3 linked regions of the Homo sapiens genome follow. The protein of the gene in region 1 interacts with the protein of each later gene in a pairwise test. Each region holds a gene or a part of one and is shown in the gene's direction. Other genes may lie near its edges.

What was found.
Region 2: the proteins of PPP2R5E (region 1) and CRY1 interact in a two-hybrid assay, tested with the Homo sapiens proteins (one study listed by BioGRID).
Region 3: the proteins of PPP2R5E (region 1) and NOD2 interact in a two-hybrid assay, tested with the Homo sapiens proteins (one study listed by BioGRID and IntAct).

Annotation. Positions count from the first base shown.
Region 1 is NC_000014.9:63,393,337-63,396,987, reverse strand, and holds part of PPP2R5E (serine/threonine-protein phosphatase 2A 56 kDa regulatory subunit epsilon isoform), read left to right. Parts: intron 1-271; coding exon 272-402; intron 403-1,702; coding exon 1,703-1,762; intron 1,763-3,059; coding exon 3,060-3,168; intron 3,169-3,651. UniProt on the Homo sapiens protein: The B regulatory subunit might modulate substrate selectivity and catalytic activity, and might also direct the localization of the catalytic enzyme to a particular subcellular compartment.
Region 2 is NC_000012.12:107,020,508-107,024,158, reverse strand, and holds part of CRY1 (cryptochrome-1), read left to right. Parts: intron 1-1,966; coding exon 1,967-2,075; intron 2,076-3,651.
Region 3 is NC_000016.10:50,710,469-50,714,119, forward strand, and holds part of NOD2 (nucleotide-binding oligomerization domain-containing protein 2), read left to right. Parts: intron 1-89; coding exon 90-1,905; coding exon of another isoform or gene 1,906-1,906; exon of another isoform or gene 1,907-2,169; intron 2,170-2,284; coding exon of another isoform or gene 2,285-2,285; exon of another isoform or gene 2,286-3,121; intron 3,122-3,651. UniProt on the Homo sapiens protein: Pattern recognition receptor (PRR) that detects bacterial peptidoglycan fragments and other danger signals and plays an important role in gastrointestinal immunity.

The DNA of each region.
Region 1 (3,651 bases):
ATGATCACAGTAAGTGCCATATGTGTATTAGCTATTATTCATATTATTACTTTTATTGTTGTTATTTTGTATTTGTATTTCTTTAGTGGAATATAAGCTCCTTGTCTGACTTGTTTATCATGATATGCCCAAAGACTAGCACTGTGCTTGGCACATAATAGATATTCAACACATTTTTTGAGGAAGGAAGAAGGGGATTTTAAATAATAGAATTCCTAAATCCTTTTCTGAAACCGCCTTTGACAGCTATAATGTCTTTCATTTACAACAGCTTCTGGAGCTATTTGACAGCGAAGACCCTCGGGAACGGGACTACTTAAAAACAGTCTTACACAGAATTTATGGCAAGTTTCTTGGTCTTAGAGCATTTATCCGAAAACAGATTAACAATATTTTTCTAAGGTAAGTGGAGTGTGATGGGGGAAGAAGGAGAAGCAAAGTTGGTGTTTTTATGAGTATTAAGTAAATCTCAAATATCTGAAAACGGTGTACTGACTTCTCTTTCTCCCTTTCTGCCTGCCTTCCTTCATTCTACTGACTCTCCTGCCTCTTCCTCTACCCCCTCCCCCTCCTCTCCTCCCCCATCTTCTCCTCTCCTCCCCCATCTTCTCCTCTCCTCCCCCATCTTCTCCTCCCACCCTCCTCTTCCTCCTCTTTTCCTCTTCCTCTCCCTCCTCCCCCCACTGCTTCTTCTCTATCCCTCCTCTCCCCCTACTTTCCCCCTCCTCTTCCCTCTCCCCTGCTTTTCTCCTCCCCCTTCTCCTCCTCCCCCATCTCCTCCTCCTCTCCTCTTTTCCTCTCCTCTCTCCTCCTCCTCCTCTATCCCCTGTCCTCCTCCTTTCTCCCTCCCTCTCCTCCTCTCCTCCCCGCTCTCCTCCTCTCCTGCCCCCTCCCCCTTCTCCTCTTTTCCTCCCTCTCCTCCTCTCTTCCCCCACCTCTCCCTCCCCCATCTTCCCCCTCCCCTCTCTTCCCCCCTTCTCCTCTCCTCCCCCGTCTCTTCCCTCCTTTTCTCCCCCTCCCCCTTCTCCTCCTCTTCTCCTCCCTGTCCTCCTCTCTTCCCCCACCTCTCCCTCCCCCATCTTCCCGCTCCCCTCCTCTCTTCCCCCCTTCTCCTCTCCTCCCCGACTCCTCTCTTCCCTCCTTTTCTCCCCCTCCCCCTCCTCCTCCTCTCCTCCTCCCTCTCCTCCTCTCTTCCCCCCATCTCTCCCCCGTCTCCTCCTCTCTTCCCCCCTCCTCCTCCCTTTTCCCTCTGCTCCTCCTCCCTTCCACCCTCTCCTCCCCCCTCTTCTCCCCTCTCTCCTCCGCTCTTCCCTCCTCTCCTCCCCCTCTCTCCCCATCTTCTCCTCCCTCTCCTCTCTTCCCCCATCTCTCCCCCATCTCCTCTCTTCCCCTCTCTCCTCCTCTCTTCCCTCCTCTCCTCCTCTCTTCCCTCCTCTCCTCCTCTCTTCCCTCCTCTCCTCCTCCTCTCTTCCCTCCTCTCCTCCTCCTCTCTTCCCCCCTCCTCTCCTCCTCCTCTCTTCCCCCCTCCTCCTCCTCCTTCTCTCTTCCCCCTTGTCCTCCCTCTCCTCCTCTCTTCCCCGCTCTCCTCCTCCTCCTCCTCTTCTCCTCCTCCTCCCCCTTCTCCTCCTCCTCCTCCTCTTTTTATCCCTTCCTTCTCCTCCTCCTCTCCTCCTTTCTCCTCCCTTTTCTCCTCTTCTCTCAGGTTTGTTTATGAAACAGAACACTTCAATGGTGTAGCTGAACTGCTGGAAATATTAGGAAGGTGAGCACGGTTTTTCTAATTGCTAATCTCAGATGAATATTATTTTAAAAATTAGGTTCAGGTGGCACCAAGAGATGCTCACCTAGTTCTCTTGCTGTATGTACATTGGGTCTCTCTCATTTGTGCCTATTAGCATATTTTCCAGCTGACTCTACAAGACACAATTTCCTGTTCCCCTTGTTCCACAAGTATGCATTGCCATTTCCACTGGAATGACTGAAAGAGCTGACAGTTCATTCATTACTAGAAAGATGGTACATCTAATTGTGGTCAGGCTAGTTACTCCAAAACATCTTATTCTCATTAGTTTTTAGGCTATCTGGTCCTTTGCCTTATCTGTTGAAAGCAAGTTTATAATAAATTGGAAAGATTGCCATTTTCAAAGGAGTTGTGTATCCAGGTATAGTCCTTGAACAGCTGCAGCCTGGAGTAGTGGAATGAATTGGAAAGAGCTGTGGTGTAAGTTTCTACACACAAGGGAGGATAATGTAGCTGGACAATATGATTACTTAATCTTTTCTCCTAATATGAAGAGAAAAAGAAGGTGGAGTCACATGGCTTTCTCTCAGTGATTTCCCTAGGCTGGGCAGAGGTTTCAGGAATGAGAAGGAATGATGTCTGGAAATGGAAAAGGTCATATTTAAGGCGGAAGCAAGCAAGGCGGGCCATTATTTGGAGAAGGAAAAGGGAGGGAAAATAAAGGGTTTTGATAAAGAGCTTTTGGAAACCATCTGACTAATTTTAGGAGCACAGGAGCCTTTGTTGGGTGACCAGAAGCAAATTTTCTTCTCTTAAATTTCCTTCCAACTTTTTGTATTCCTTGAAGTCATTAAGAAATCCTGGCTGGGTGTGGTGGCTCACGCCTATTATCCCAGCACTTTGGGAGGCCAAGGTGGGCAGATCATTTGCAGTTAAGAGTTCTAGACCAGTCTGGACAATATGGTGAAACTCCTTCTCTACTAAAAATACAAAAAAATTAGCCAGGCATGGTGGTGGGTGCCTGTAATCCCAGCTACTTGGGAGGCCTGAGGCATAGGAATAGCTTGAATCCCGGAGGCGAAGGTTGCAGTGAGCTGAGATTGGGCCACTGCACTCCAGCCTGGGCAATAGAGCAAGATGACTCTGTCTCAAAAAAAAAAAAAAAAAAAAAAAAAAGGAAATTCTGAATGCCACTGGGGTGGGTATTATGTTGTTTTGTACAAACAAACTGATTAAGTTTAATTAATATCACAAGAACAGTTTGTCTCAGTTCAACTTGTGGTAACATTGCTAATTTGTGTCTCTTTTTTCTCCCTAGTATTATCAATGGCTTTGCTTTACCTCTTAAGGCAGAACACAAACAGTTTCTGGTGAAAGTATTGATCCCTTTACACACTGTCAGGAGCTTATCACTCTTCCATGCACAGGTAGGAGGATTTTGTACAACTACTTTTAGAAGCAAAATAAAAAGTTTGCAAACTCGTTTTTTTGATATTGATATAACCTTCATTTTGTTTTTTTGGTTTTTGTTTTTTGAGACGGAGTCTTGCTCTGCCGCCCAGGCTGGAGTGCAGTGGGACAGTCTTGGCTCACTGCAGCCTCCACCTCCCGGGTTCAAGCAATTCTTCTGCCTCAGCCTCCCGAGTAGCTGTGACTACAAGCGCACGCCACCATGCCCAGCTAATTTTTGTATTTTTAGTAGAGACGGGGTTTTACCATGTTGGCCAAGATGGTCTGGGTCTTCTGACCTCATGATCCGCCCACCTTGGCCTCCCAAAGTGCTGGGATTACAGAGGTGTGAGCCACGGCGCCGGGCCTATCGCCTTCATTCCCAAAGGAAAGAGACTTACTTAAGTTTAAAATACTCCCCGAGGGAAATAAAAATGTATGCATTTTTTTTCTATGCACAG
Region 2 (3,651 bases), on another chromosome or scaffold:
CAACAGAGATTAGGGGATTATTATTGCCTTAGATTACCCCCTCCAGGACATTTAAGTTTTGTACTGTTTCAATTTAAGAAAACTTAAAATTGCTAGTTCTTTCAACTTCTTAATTTTTGATCTGTGTAAAAACCCTTCGATCTTTGTTCTGTCTAGTAACTCTTCTTGCCAAGCAAATACATAAAATTAGATGCTTCCCAATAAACATTTGTCACCAGACATGATAAATTATTCATAGTTGGAGATAATTTTATTAAACTCCAATGCTTTTATATCACTATCCATCTAACAACAACAGTCTTCTCCCCTGAAATATTTGTACATTGGTAGTGGTGGGTTAGGATGGGGATCAGGTGTTAGGGAGGTGACTCCAAACCAAGGCAGAAAAGGGATGTGATAAAATATAAATGTGGGGATAGAAAGGTTTGCTTCCTACTTGGAAACCCATGAGACTTCCTAAGGTGAAATGGTGGGATGTCTTTAACATCCTCATAAAAATATAGCACCTTGACTCTTCAAGCTGTACAGATGGTGCTCCTAAAGAGGAAGAAGTGTCAGACCTGACTAGTGCACTTATGTCACTAATAACTACAGTTGTAAAAAATCAACAAGACTTATTTGGTGAAATGATGGTATCGGAATGTGTAAAGCGAACAAAATGATCTAGACCAAGCAGCTTTTTAGAACAATCTGTCCAGTAGAACTTTCTGCAATGATGGAAATGTTCTGTAGCTATACTGTTCAGTATGGTAGCCAGCCACCAGCTATACATGTGGCTGTTGAGGACTTGAAATGTGGCAAGTGTGACTAAGGAACTGATTTTTAAATTTAACTAACTTAAATTTAAATGGCTACATGTGCCTTTTGGTTACCATATTAGATAGTGCACTTCTAGAATTTGCATTTCCCTGCTTCTTAATCACTCCTCTTCACAAGTAAGAGATAATTGCTATTCTGAAAGACCATGTGGCCTGTGAAAAAGGCAGACAAATACTTAACCTTGAGATCAAAAACATAAAAGAAGCAAAATAGGAAATAAGATACGTCCAGCTGAAAAGAACAGAATCTAAATGAAACTTAACATGAGTCAAATAATAAGATTGGACCTTCCATGGGTGACATCTCTTTTAAATTTGTTCTTGGGAATGTTCCATTTCTTCGCAACAGAAGATGCACAGTAAGCAGTCTTCTGGTACTGCCCCAGAATTTTCCTAGATATCTGTCATGTGTAAGCCTTGTTACTACTTATTTCATTGAAAAAGTCTATAATCTCCACCCCAACTCCATGAAACCTTTTCTTTTTTTTTTTTTTTAGAAGTTAATCTGGCATTTTCTACACTCAGGGAATTAATAACCACATAATTTGGCATCTACTTATTAGTTTCTTTTTTTAATAAATTAGAAACTTGAAAATGGGCATTATGATTTCAATCTCTTAAATGATTACAATATTACAAAAAAGTACTCATAATCTTTTTTTTTTGTCCCCTCAGATTCCTTTTTACCATGATATTCTTAAATTATTCACTTGCTTATTCATTACATAGGATGTTTCTGGTTTTTTCCCCCCAGCAGAAGATATTCTAGATTTTTCAAGTTTTCCTTTCTATATGAAAAGCCATTTTCATACAGAAAATATTTCATCAAGTTTAAACAATGAAACCAATTTAATTGCTTTGATACTTCTTTGTATGTTTTTATGTTCACAAATTAAATTTTTGCTAATAGTCACTTTTATTTAATGAAAATTAGTGATTTTATTCAGTATTTTATTAAAATACTAGGTAATTTGTGCTATAATTAAAAAATATATATTAGTATGGTTTTTGGAAAAAGTATATATCAATAGGAGGTAATAAGATGATAGGTTGGCATTTCAACTTTTAGAATAACATGACTTTGTAATAATTTATGTCTTCTAAATATGTATTTTTTAATAATTTAAATAATACTTTCTTCTCTCTAGATTTTTGCTTCAGTGTCTTGAGGATCTTGATGCCAATCTACGAAAATTAAACTCCCGTCTGTTTGTGATTCGTGGACAACCAGCAGATGTGTTTCCCAGGCTTTTCAAGGTAATTTGAAAAATATTTGCATAAAACAATCTTTTCTCAGATAATATTACATATTTGGTAAATAAAGTTTTTTGACTAATTGAAAATGTAGCGAATATAAGTATTTTCAAGTAAAAATTTTGTGGGTTTTTTTTCTTTATTTAATGAAAAAGCTATACATGGTAAAAATCAGACAGTGAGAAAATAGTTTACAATGAAAAGTTCAATCTTTCTTCTACCTTAAACTGCTCGTTGCCCTCCCAGAAGCAACAGCTACTACCAGTTTCTTATGTATCCAATTCCAGTTTCTTGTTTATCCAATTAGAAATATTCTTTGCATAAACAAGAATTTTTTGTGTGTGTATATATATATATTTTTGTGTGTGTGTGTGTATATATATATGTGTATACACACACACACATCCATGTGTTTGTGTCTGTGTTACTGTCCCCTTTGTTAAAAGTTAAAATGACACACTATACACACCATTCTCTGCCATGCTTTGTTCACATAACCATATCTTTTGGAAGTTGTTCCATATCATTTCCTCGGTCTTTCAGATGACTTCATAGTATTCCATTTTGTAGATGGCTATAATTTTTTAAACTAGCTTTCTACTGAACGTTTAATTATTTTCTCTGTAGGCCTTTTGCTAGTATAAATGCCAGTGAACTTACTTGTCCACATTTATGAATCTTTGCTCACATGGGCCAGTACATTTGTGGGATAATTCTTAGAAGACTTTCTGGGTCAAAGGATTGTAACAATGGACATTTTACCAATAATACAGAATTTGTAGTGCTTTTTTTTTTCTTTTTTTGAGATGGAGTCTTGCTCTTGTCGCCCAGGCTAGAGTGCAATGGCGCAATCTCAGCGCACTACAACCTCTGCCTCCTGGGTTCAGGTGATTCTTCTGCCTCAGCTTCCTGAGTAGCTGGGATTACTGGCGCACGCCACCATGCCTGGCTAATTTTGTACTTTTAGTAGAGACAGGGTTTCACCATGTTGGTCAGGCTGGTCTCGAACTCCTGACCTTAGGTGATCCACCGGCCTCGACCTCCCAAAGTGCTGGAATTAAAGGTGTGAGCCACTGCGCCCAGCACTGTAGTGCTTTTTAAAAAACTTAGTAGGATCTTAAAAATCTTTAAAAATGTTTAAGATACCTAATCTTATCTCTTCCCTTTTTTCCAAATGAAAAAATTAGGCCTAGAGAATAATTGAGTTGCCCAAGATCATACAACTAGCTCATGGAAATGCCCAGACCAGAAACTGAGTTTCCTCATTGCCCTTTTTGTATTCATCCCTTCCTATTTATTACTGTATTAGTCCATTTTCACATTGCTGCAAAGAAATATCTGAGACTGTATAATTTATAAAGAAAAGAGATTTAATTGGCTCACAGTTCTGCAGGCTGTACAGGAAGCATAGTGGCTTCTGGGAAGGCCTCAGGAAACTTACAATCATGGTGGAAGGGGAAGGGAAAGGGGAAGTAAGAACTTCACATGGCCAGAGCAGGAGGAAGAGAGAAGGAGCGGGGAGGTGCCACACTTTAAAAAAAACAAAAAACAAAAAAAAAAACAGATCTTGCAAGCACTC
Region 3 (3,651 bases), on another chromosome or scaffold:
GTCAGCGTCCCCCGCAGCAGCCCATTGTCTGGTTAGGTCCCGTCTTCACCATGGTGCCACCTTCATCTGCCTCTTCTTCTGCCTTCCAGCTGCCACATGCAAGAAGTATATGGCCAAGCTGAGGACCACGGTGTCTGCTCAGTCTCGCTTCCTCAGTACCTATGATGGAGCAGAGACGCTCTGCCTGGAGGACATATACACAGAGAATGTCCTGGAGGTCTGGGCAGATGTGGGCATGGCTGGACCCCCGCAGAAGAGCCCAGCCACCCTGGGCCTGGAGGAGCTCTTCAGCACCCCTGGCCACCTCAATGACGATGCGGACACTGTGCTGGTGGTGGGTGAGGCGGGCAGTGGCAAGAGCACGCTCCTGCAGCGGCTGCACTTGCTGTGGGCTGCAGGGCAAGACTTCCAGGAATTTCTCTTTGTCTTCCCATTCAGCTGCCGGCAGCTGCAGTGCATGGCCAAACCACTCTCTGTGCGGACTCTACTCTTTGAGCACTGCTGTTGGCCTGATGTTGGTCAAGAAGACATCTTCCAGTTACTCCTTGACCACCCTGACCGTGTCCTGTTAACCTTTGATGGCTTTGACGAGTTCAAGTTCAGGTTCACGGATCGTGAACGCCACTGCTCCCCGACCGACCCCACCTCTGTCCAGACCCTGCTCTTCAACCTTCTGCAGGGCAACCTGCTGAAGAATGCCCGCAAGGTGGTGACCAGCCGTCCGGCCGCTGTGTCGGCGTTCCTCAGGAAGTACATCCGCACCGAGTTCAACCTCAAGGGCTTCTCTGAACAGGGCATCGAGCTGTACCTGAGGAAGCGCCATCATGAGCCCGGGGTGGCGGACCGCCTCATCCGCCTGCTCCAAGAGACCTCAGCCCTGCACGGTTTGTGCCACCTGCCTGTCTTCTCATGGATGGTGTCCAAATGCCACCAGGAACTGTTGCTGCAGGAGGGGGGGTCCCCAAAGACCACTACAGATATGTACCTGCTGATTCTGCAGCATTTTCTGCTGCATGCCACCCCCCCAGACTCAGCTTCCCAAGGTCTGGGACCCAGTCTTCTTCGGGGCCGCCTCCCCACCCTCCTGCACCTGGGCAGACTGGCTCTGTGGGGCCTGGGCATGTGCTGCTACGTGTTCTCAGCCCAGCAGCTCCAGGCAGCACAGGTCAGCCCTGATGACATTTCTCTTGGCTTCCTGGTGCGTGCCAAAGGTGTCGTGCCAGGGAGTACGGCGCCCCTGGAATTCCTTCACATCACTTTCCAGTGCTTCTTTGCCGCGTTCTACCTGGCACTCAGTGCTGATGTGCCACCAGCTTTGCTCAGACACCTCTTCAATTGTGGCAGGCCAGGCAACTCACCAATGGCCAGGCTCCTGCCCACGATGTGCATCCAGGCCTCGGAGGGAAAGGACAGCAGCGTGGCAGCTTTGCTGCAGAAGGCCGAGCCGCACAACCTTCAGATCACAGCAGCCTTCCTGGCAGGGCTGTTGTCCCGGGAGCACTGGGGCCTGCTGGCTGAGTGCCAGACATCTGAGAAGGCCCTGCTCCGGCGCCAGGCCTGTGCCCGCTGGTGTCTGGCCCGCAGCCTCCGCAAGCACTTCCACTCCATCCCGCCAGCTGCACCGGGTGAGGCCAAGAGCGTGCATGCCATGCCCGGGTTCATCTGGCTCATCCGGAGCCTGTACGAGATGCAGGAGGAGCGGCTGGCTCGGAAGGCTGCACGTGGCCTGAATGTTGGGCACCTCAAGTTGACATTTTGCAGTGTGGGCCCCACTGAGTGTGCTGCCCTGGCCTTTGTGCTGCAGCACCTCCGGCGGCCCGTGGCCCTGCAGCTGGACTACAACTCTGTGGGTGACATTGGCGTGGAGCAGCTGCTGCCTTGCCTTGGTGTCTGCAAGGCTCTGTAGTGAGTGTTACTGGGCATTGCTGTTCAGGTATGGGGGAGCACCATCAAGGCTAAGTGTGGGAGCACCGAGCTGGGCTCTAGAAGTCTGGGCCCAGCTTCGCCTCTGCCACCCTGCTTTGCAACACTGCCCAGATCCCTTCCCTTCTGGGCCTTAATTTCAATATGTGATGATGACAGCCACACTTTATTGACTGGCCTATGTGCTGGGTCTGGTGCTATGCTTTCCGGAATGACCTCATCTAATCTCTACAACCACCCTGGCGGGTAGGCAGGAATGTTATTATCTCCATTATCCTTGACTTGAGGCTCAGAGAAGTGAAGTAACTTGTCCAGGAAATGGCAGAGCTGGGGTTCACAAATTGCATCATTCTGATTACAGGTTTTCTGCCTCCCACCAGTCTATGGATACACTTCAGAGGCTCCCTGAAAACCTTGAGGTCACTTGCAGAAAGTTTTGTGTAGTATGTGTCCGTATCAGGAACAACACCAAATCAGAGGTGACTTGTGCCCCATCAGAGACTTTAACACCCCAACCAGATGGGAATTTCAGGACCCAAGAAATAGAAAGTGGCTGCAGGGTTACAACTACTGTTGGATTCCTGAGGTAGCACAGTGTCCAAACAGGATTTCAGCACTACCCGTATTGCTTAGAGCCCCAGCCAAAGATGTGAGGTTTTGCCCTTTGGAGAATCTGTGCCCCTGAACTCGGGGGCCTCTTTCCACATCTTGGGGGCAGGCAAGGGCAGAGGGTGTGCCTAGGCCTGCGGATCAGCATGCGACAGATTCCCCAACATCCTTCCAGCTTGAAAGGGGATTGCCCTGCTTCTATTTAGAACCTATAGGAAAGCAGAAGTTCTAGATTGAAGTTAAAATTGATTCCCAGCCTCCAGGGGCTTTGGGCTACACCTGGATGACCTTAATTGACCCTAAGCATGGGACAAACCACTTCCTGAGAGTATTAGGATGGTATACATCTTCTCTGGGGGCAAAGCAACAAGATTTATTTTTCATCATGGACCAAACACATGGATACCCACTAGAAACTGTGTAGTGAATTTTGTTAACCCTGACATAGGGACCATGGTCTTTAGGTTAAAGCATAATAACAACATAATACATAACATATATAGCGAATATATATATGTATTATATGCAATGAATGTAAATATGATTATACCCATCATGGTCTTGGAGGAAACAGATGACACACTTAAAATGGGTGTTTTGAGGAGAGTTTGAAAAACAGATTGTTTACAAGCCATGGGCAGGAGTTAGGAAGAGTGAGAGGGTTGGTGCAGGGGCCTGGGGTTAGTAACAGCTGGGGGAGGGTAGACTTGAAGGGGGAAGGGGAGGGAGACTAATTAGCTGGGGGGAAGGTATGGAGACGGCTGCCTGAGCTTCTGCAAAGTGGAAGAATACCGCTTGGCCCTAACTCCTCACCCCAACTCTTGCTCCTGGCCAGCGCCTTCCACCAGCTGGACCCATCAGGGAGGCCGAGTGGGCTGTCTGCTGGAGTAGTCCCCAGGCATCAGCCTCCCAGGAGCCAGGGACGGGTAGAGAAGGGGGAGAGTGGATCTGGCCAGGCAAATGGAAAACAGCCAGCACCAAACTCTATTTCCCTAGGAGGGAGGATCATGATACTTTGAGTGGGAATTTGGAAACCTGTCTGTTGGAGCAATTTCCCTGATAGAAATAAGAATGTGCATTTTCCTGGGTAGTAGACTCAGTTTTTACCCCAAGAGGCCA